Linked DNA regions of Homo sapiens: region 1 is linked to region 2. Evidence: fine-mapped expression QTL. A gene starts in region 2. The other region holds a variant in brackets. All regions are shown on one strand. Distances are between the middles of the regions.

Evidence for each region. PIP is the estimated chance that this variant, and not a neighbour inherited with it, causes the effect. A credible set is the group of variants that fine-mapping cannot tell apart.
Region 1: its variant is the best candidate, but not a certain one, in a credible set for the expression of PPP1R36 in whole blood (TOPMed, PIP 0.53).

The regions. Positions count from the first base shown.
Region 1 is chr14:64,519,765-64,524,014 of GRCh38, reverse strand. ZBTB1 (zinc finger and BTB domain containing 1) reads right to left here. Exons shown (of 2, transcript NM_001123329.2): 2 at 1-2,528. The coding sequence starts at 2,510. The coding sequence ends at 369. All of the region lies in intron 2 of HSPA2-AS1 (HSPA2 and ZBTB1 antisense RNA 1), which reads left to right. Among named protein-coding and RNA genes, the nearest start is that of ZBTB1, 17 kb to the right of the region's middle. The variant CTG/G (reference allele first, on the strand shown) is at 2,514.
Region 2 is chr14:64,548,132-64,552,663 of GRCh38, reverse strand. It overlaps PPP1R36 (protein phosphatase 1 regulatory subunit 36), which reads right to left and starts at 2,703. Exons shown (of 12, transcript NM_172365.3): 1 at 2,598-2,703; 2 at 1,679-1,743. The coding sequence starts at 2,666. RefSeq lists a silencer at 2,548-2,837.

The DNA.
Region 1 (4,250 bases), 29 kb after region 2:
AATTTCACAGGATAACCTTAAAAAAAAAAAAACACATAGAAATAGTGAAGTCATCACCTTATTGATGAAAAACTAAAGTTTAATAGTCATTGAATGGGTAACAACCACTTGTAGTCTACATTTAAAAATTTTAATCATAGCTAAGAAAAACTAAAAACAAATAATTCTATTAAGAAACAACAAAAATGATAAACATTTAATACCTAAATGTAGATACTTAAAATCCTAAACAAAAATATTAAAGTTAAAAGGGCCTTGAAATTTGTTTCTAACAAATCATCTTATATAATCAATTCCTAAATAGCTCATATCCTTTGCTTTGGTGTTTTATCTGCTATCATCTAAACATTAGTACAGTAGAAAATCACTCAGGTTCTTTTCAAATGCTTGGCATTATAATGTGATCTCATATCTTTCCTCAAATTAAATTTTGCTCCACATATTCCACATGTATACAGATGAACATCCATGTGCTGCTCCAACTGTTCATTATTTGGGAATATCTGAAAGCAGACCTGGCATATAGTCTCACCAGCAGATAAATGAGAAATCATATGCCGTACATGGTCATGTTTTCTGAAGTTTCCTTGATCACAAATGGAACAGACATACCTGGCCATGCCTTTGTGCATATCATTGTGCAGTCGCAACTGACGCTCTCTTAAAAACTGCTTTCCACATGTTTGACAAACAAACTGTTTTTCCTTAGTATGAACAGTATAGTGTTCTCTTAAGTGACACCGCTGATAAAATCCTTTTCCACACAGATTACAAAAATGCTTTCGTCTGTGATCTCTTTCATTTTCTTCCATGATGGCACTCTTAAACATATCTTGATCTAAGCAGCTAGACATATGTTCAACCACTAGATTTTCAGTTTCAAAACGCTGGCCACAATTAGGACATCGAAAAGGGCAGGCAGAATGTTTAAATAACTGCTTTTTTTGGATACTGTTTATCTGGTAATGATTGTCCCTAAAATCATCCAGCATTTCAACAAACATATCTCTTATTTCGGACTGCTCATCAGGATTCTCTTCCAAGTCCATTTTCTCCTCAGTATTTCCTAACCCATTCATGGTCAGATCTTGGGGCTCGCCACATCGTTGAGCATGTTCCTGAAGCTGCCTACCCTTTACAAGTATTTGTCCACATTTACCACATGCACAGATATTTTCAATGTGTTTGGCTAAGTAATGAGATGACAGGTCCTCCTCGGTTATTGTAAGTCCACACAGCTCACAAGATGCATTTTCAGCATCCTCTTGTACTGGACTGCTGTTGTTAGGGGGCCTCATATTCTCTAAACCACCTCTTTCATCAGCACTTACTGACATTCGAGGTTTTAGAGTTTTCCTACCACTTTTTTTTATGCTGACATCTTCTTCAACATAGTATCTATAAAATGGCTCTTCAGGTTCATCTTCTAATTCATCATTGTCAGTGGATTCATTACAGTCTTTATCAGTAACTTTAATAATGTTAAAGTCTTTCAGTTCATCTGTAGGAATATCTTCTGGCTCCATCTTAATAATAATCCTTTTCCTCTCAGCAGCTCTGCTTTTCTCTTCGCTTGCTATTTCAGACTCCACTGTGCTACTTTTTCTGCTTCCAGTGGTTGAAGCTGAATCATCAGCAGCCTGGCTTGTGTCTCCTCTGTATTTGTCCGTCTGTGCAGAAAATGTTTTGGAAGAATCTTTTTCACCAAATTCAGCTTTGATGTTACTGTCTTTTCCATCTCTAATATCTACTATTCTATGGTAAGATCTTGTGTTTTGGTATAAATGTCTGTTAGTACAGGTTAGCACATGCTCATCTAATAATTTTTCACAGCTAAAGCCAAATCCACAGCTATCACAGGTAAAACTCCGCCCAAAGCGTCTTGACACACGTTCTTTTGGAGTAGATAATTTGGACACGGAACTTTTTTTACATACATCAAATAGTGGCTCAGGAAAATTACCTAATTGTAAAGACTCTTCATCAGCCTCTCTATTATGTGGTGTATTTACCGTTGAACTTGGCTCTGCACACCACCTGTTGGCTTCATTGCCATTTCGAGCCACAGTATCTTCATACATTCTTACCCCAAATATCATTTTGCTGTTCTGTTTGCTGGAAGCAGAAGAGGAACATTTTGAACTAGAACAATCTGCATCCTGGATGTCTTCTAAACAGTCAGGAACATTGTATAGCTGTAGGTAGTTCATTGCCACTTTAAACTGCTCAAAACTGGAGGGAGCTGTCATAATTTTTCCTAAATACATAAACTGCAAAATGAGATCAAAACATTCTGCACTAATTTTCATGTTGCTGAGATTCAGTTGTGCAGTACTATGCTGATGGTTCATGAAAAACATTCTAAAATAGGAGCTACAGGCAGCTAGAACTGCCTTGTGTGCTTGAAAGTAAATGTCATCAATTGCAATACAGCAGTCACAGAGAAAACCCCATTCTCTTTGGTTGTTTAGCTGCTGAAGGACATAGCTGCTGTGGCTGGGCTTTGCCATCTT[CTG/G]TTAATTAGAGACCTATGTAAAACAAAAATATTAAAGTCAAACAAGATATAGAAAAGCACTTGACAAAATTAACTTTTATCATGATTTGTGACTTGCATGACTGCTATTACAATCAAGAAATTAAGAGCTTTCCATTCTAATAAAACTCAATAATATATACTTGAATCATTTTTTAAATTTGAAGATGAAGACATCCAGCCATTTATTCAGGCTTTTCATATTGAACAAAGGCATCAAAAGCAAAAGACAGTTTTAGTTTCATTACAACTCTTGGGGGGAACATGTACACTAAATTTGAACAGAAAAAAAGACATTAATTTAAAAATACTTGAAGGAGGCCGAGTGCAGTGGCTCACGCCTGTAATCCTAACACTTTGGGAGACCGAGGCAGGAGGATTGCTTGAGCTCGGGAGTTTGAGACCAGCCTGGGCAATAGTGTGAGACCTCTTCTCTACAAAAAAGTTTAAAAAATTAACCAGGTGTGGTGGCATCACCTGTAGTCCCAGTTACTTGGGAGGCTAAAGTGGGTGGATCACTTGAGCCCGACAGGTAGAGGCTGTAGTGAGTTGCGTCACGCCACTGCACTCCAGTCTGGATGACAGAGCAAGACTCTGTCTCAAAAGAAAAAAAAAAAAAGAAAACAACTCTTGAAGGATATGAGTAATGAAAGTAAATAAAACAGCAACTTAAACTGAAAGTTAACAATTAGATTGTAAAGTATGAAAAACTTATTAAATGATTAATACTAAGGAGCTATTGCTCATTTTTTAAGTGTGAGAAAGGTATTTTGATTGTGTTAAAAAGAATCCTTATCTTTTGGATATATATACTTTAGTATTTACAGATGAAATGATACATCTGAGATATGCTTAAAAATAAATGGGGTGGGTGTGGGGAGCAATAGATGATACAAGATTGGCCATGTGTTGTTAAAATAATCTATTTTAAAAACCCTATTAAGCCTGGGCAACATAGCAAGATCTCGCCTTAAAAACAAAACAAAACAAAACAAAAAAACATTAGCCAGGCATGATGATGCACCTGCAGTCCCAACTACTCGGGAGACTGATGCAGGAGGATGGCTTGAGCCCAGGATTTTGAGGTTGTGGTGAGCCATGATCACGCCACTGTACTCTAGCTTGTGTGACAGAGTGAGACTCTATCCCAAAAATAAAAATTTAAAAAAACCTTATTAGGGCTGGGTGTGGTGGCTCACACCTGTAATCCCAGCACTTTGGGAGGCCGAGGCGGGCGGATCACGAGGTCAGGAGATCGAAACCATCCTGGCTAACACAGTGAAACCTTGTCTCTACTAAAAATACAAAAAAAATTAGCCAGGCGTGGTGGTGGGCGCCTGTATTCCCAGCTACTCAGGAGGCTGAGGCGGGAGACTGGCATGAACCTGGGAGGCGGAGCTTGCAGTGAGCCGAGATCGCACCACTGCACTCCAGCCTGGGCGACAGAGCGAGACTCCGTTTCAAAACAACAACAACAACAACAACAACAACAACCTTATTAGATTATATAGAAATGGCACCAAACAAGTTTGATCAGTGCCTTTGTCTTTTCTTGAATTATCAAAGAAGCAATAATTCTATAGAGTTAGAATGTGTCTCATGTTGCTCAACATGCATTTCAGGGTATAAAGAAGCAGTGGGTTTATTTGAGAAGGTATTTTATTTATCCTTAGAGTGTAAAGTTTTCTTCCTTTTTTTTTTTTTGAGGCAGGGTCTC
Region 2 (4,532 bases):
TTATATTTATAATGTAACTATAAACATCTAGTGTAACTATGTATGTCTGCTTAGCCAACTCCTTTCCTGACCTCCAGCCCCCATTTGTCCAACAGCCCAAGACGTATTAATGTGAACAAGTCATAGCAACCTGAAACATGGCCAGTTTTGTCATGTTATTTATTTATTTATTTTTGAGATGGAGTCTCTCTCTGTCGCCCAGGCTGGAGCGCAGTGGCTCAATCTTGGCTCACTGCAACCTCTGCTTTCCAGATTCCAGCAATTCTCCTGTCTCAGCCTCCCAAGTAGCTGGGATTACAGGTGCCCGCCATCACGCCCGGCTAATTTTTGTATTTTTATTAGAGATAGGATTTCACCATGTTGGCCAGGCTGGTCTCAAACTCCCGACCTCAGGTGATCTGCCCGCCTCAGCCTCCCAAAGTGCTGGGATTACAGGCTTGAGCCACCACACCCAGCCACCAGTTTTGTCACTTCAATGCTGTATATGGGTGAAGGGCAATCCCAGCCACCTGATCACCCAAGTCAGACACCTAGGAGCCAATCTAAACAACTGCTTTTCCCTCTCCCTTCACATCCAATCCCCACATCCTATCAATCCTATCCAAACATCCTGTCAATCCTCTCTTAAGTATTTCTTAGTCCTTTGCCTTTCTATTTTTACCAACCTGGAGTTAATTCTAACTCTCGCTATTGCTTACTTGTATAATTATCTGTAATCCTACAACTAGTCTTCTAATGGATCACCTGCATCTATTCTTCCTCTGCTTGAATCTAGCAGATTCTTTGAACATGCTCAATAAATATTTGTTGAGTACCTACTGAAGAAGTTCTGTAGCTGGCTCCAGAGACCTGAGGATGAATAAGATAGTTCCTGCCACTGAGGAGCTTACTGTCTAGTTGAGGGAGACAGCGAGTACATGAAAAGGGCTTTAGCATTAGACAAATCTTGGTTCAAACTATCAGTTCTGCTACTTACTGGCTGTATGACTTTGGTTCAGTTGCTTAATCTCCCTGAGCCTTGTTTCTTCATCTATAAAATGAGGACATTAATGTTCACTTTCCACAGTTGTTTTAAGAATTGGAAAAATATGCAAATATCTGGCACACAATCAGTGCACAACAGATAGTGTCTAGTATTAATTTAGCTATACACTTGTAAGAGTCAGTGTCTTTTTTCATAGAGATTAGAATCAGTTTTTTCTAATTTAGTAATTTTACCTTGTGAGATTCACCATCTATTGCAGCAGATATAATATGTTCCCATTAATGTTAACTATATTTCTCTAACTCAAAAAGGCAATTTTATAATTAAAAACATGGACTCTGTAAATCAAACAGACCTACATTTAAATAATCTTAGTCACCTCTGAGCTGTGTGATTGGGCTAAGTCACTTAATTTTCCTCAAGTCGCTGAACCCTTTGAAACCTCAGTTTCTTCATCTGTAAATTGGTTAACATGCAGCTGTTTCAAAGAGTTGGTAAACATTAGCACAGTGTCTGGTCCATGTGAAGCAGCTGGTAAGCGTTCAGAGAAAGGCTGTTCACTGAAATGATTGTTTCCTTCCAGATGGCAAAGGTTCAGTGGGTATTTATTCTCTATACTCTTCTGTTGCTTTTTTTTCCCCCAGGCACATGTAATTTTTATAAAAACTCTAATAAAGTGTTGTTAAATTTTACCTTCTGAATTCAAGAGTTCTGGTTTCATCTTTCCAGTACCACATCCCTAATCGTAATCCCAACTGCTGTAAAACGAAATGATTGCAGCAAAAATAATTAAAAGCTCAATTTACAATCCATATGCCACAATAAACCTTTAACAATAATTCCTACTTACTAACACATCTTTTAAGTAATAAGAAGGAAACAAAAAACAATGGTTCCTACTAGTCCCTCTTTACACTTTCAGTAAGAGTGTAGAATCCTAAAGCGTTAAACTTGAAGCTAGGATTTTATCGCTTTGATTGATTTTAGGTGTGGCTTCAGTAGAACGGCAGGAAGGAGGGAGAGGGAGAAAGGAAGGGAGGAAAGTAGGAAAAGAGGAAAGAAGCAGCGGAGGAAGGGAAGGGCGAAAGATAGGAAGGAAATTGGGACTACATATAGCTCATCATAGCAATCTACCAATTAATTGAAATTCAGACAATAAACTGATACCCAGGACAGCCTCAGCTGTCTGGTTCTGGAGACTTCCGGGCTCCAACACTGAGCCTGCCCTTTACAGGCAGTGGCAAAAAGTTAAGTACACCCTTTTCACCGTGGAAGCTAGCACCCACCAGCCTTTCTATCCAGAGCGGGGCTGCTTCCCCCGCAGTAGGTCTCCCTATTTTGCAACCAACCAATTAGAGGTGGTGAGGTGGGATTTCGTAAATATCTAACTACCTGCGCAGGGAGCCAGAATTCAATTCTGACCATCTGTCAAATACACCAGAGTTTTTTTTTTTTCTAGGCAAATATGGCCAGGTGTCTTTGAGAACCGCCAGCCCGGGGCGAAGGCGACGACCCGCCTCTGGAGGAGGGCGAGGGGCGCGGCGCCGGTTGGGGGCAGCAGGGCCCGCCTTGCGCCCAGCCCGGGTATGGGGGCGACCAAGGCTGCACTTACATCCATCAAGTAAGGGGTCTGCCCACCTAACCGCTTCCTCCTCGCATAAAACTCGGGCACCCGGTACATGGCCTCGCCCTGGAAGCCATACGGCGTCGCCGAGGATACCGCCCGCAGGCGCCTGCACACGGCTGCCCGGGGCGCGGAGCGGGGCGGGGCGTCGCTTCCGTCCTAGGCCGCGCGGGCTGCGGCCGCACCCAGGCTTCTCCAGCGATTTCTAAAGCCCAGCCTGGTGCCCCGTTTCCCAGTCTTAAAAGCCGTGGCGACGTATTGGCCTATCCATTGTAAAGCCGCCCAGGGCATAATTCTTCATGGCATTCCAACCTTGAACTTCATGAAGTTATTCACTTTACTGTTTTAATTGGAGTAACTACATTCAGTCCTATAGGGAAGAAAGATCCATTTCTTCCTAACTTTCATGATTAGCACTATTATTAAGTTCAAATCCAGGATGAACCTAGGTTGATGGGGAGAGCAGGGTTGAGGTGGGGAAGCAGGGTAGCCTCGTGGAAGAGAACATGGGTACGGAAATAAGGTTTTCATAACAGTTGTGCTGCTTAACAAGCTGTGGAATCTAGGACAAGACTATTCTGATCTTTCTTCTGAAAACACCAAATCAGGGGTTATGTGGATTTTTGGAGTGGTGTGTGTAAAGCACCAGTCTTAAGTACTCAAAATTAGTGTTGCTCAAAAACAAAGAAACTTGCTTAGTGTCAATGGGTATTCAATTGATATTTTTACATTTACACTTTTCAAATCATGTGTCTTGTAATTCCTTCTTGCAACGGAGTTGATAATGCTGATTCTGGCTGATTTTTTTCCTCCCAGCTCTAAGTGAGCAATGCTAGATGATGCAACATGATTGGGAATGCCTAGTATATTCTTTTGTATCACCACAGCTTAATTGGTATGAGAGGCTCATAAGTAGTGGATATATACTCCCATTAACTTTTAAGTTATGTCAGTAGTCATCCCACTGCTTCTTCTATTCCCACCCTCCCAGTCTCACTACTTGGTAATACACAATCACTGGCTACAGTGATTAAATAGTAATCATCTAGATTCATGTTCTGCTCACTTGAGTCCATTCTGGCAGCTGTTCAGTTGGTCCAGGTATATGGAAACCCACTTATATACTGGCCGCAGGCAAGGCTTTCTTACTACAAGATGACACGCTTGAAAAGGAGACTATCCCATATGCCAAGAGCTTTTCACCAAGTAGCGAACATAACTTGGGGTGGACAGGACAGGGAAATAATGAGGTAAAGCTCAAGAAAAGATGCAGACAGACCAAGGAATCTGGATGGCATCCAATCACTACATAATCATTACCGGGAAGACCACACTAGTGGTCAGTAAACCTCTTCAGTTCATCCCAATAATGTGTGGAGAAGTGCTGATAGAAAACTTAAGATCTATATATCTTATCACAGAATAAACTTAGGCTGTCTAATGTACAAAACTTAGGTAAAAATAAAAGTTGAGAGCCCAAAACAATAACTACTTAAAAATTAAAGGAGAAGTTATTTCGCATGTGATAGAGGGACATAATATTTAAAGGAAAGTTTCAGTAACTCTGAAGGGACAATCTTATACTTCTCTATCACTTTACCCCAAACAAAAGGAGGAAGAAAAGATTGTTTTTACATCTCTTAATCATTACAGTACTTATTTTAAAAAGTGACCCACCGATTTCCTAAGGTACATTTTTCACCAGTTAGGTTTCTTTTTAAATGACATTAGAAACTCACAACCAAAACTGGAAATATGATTGTCCCTGTAAAGAAGAATAAACACAATTGATGATATTTAGTAGGGATGAAGGTAACTTCTAAATATTTGATAACTCCAAGTGTCCTGTGAGGGAATTTTTTTTTTTCCTAATTAAGAGAAACTTAAGGTCATATAACTATCTAAGAGCATATAATATATAAC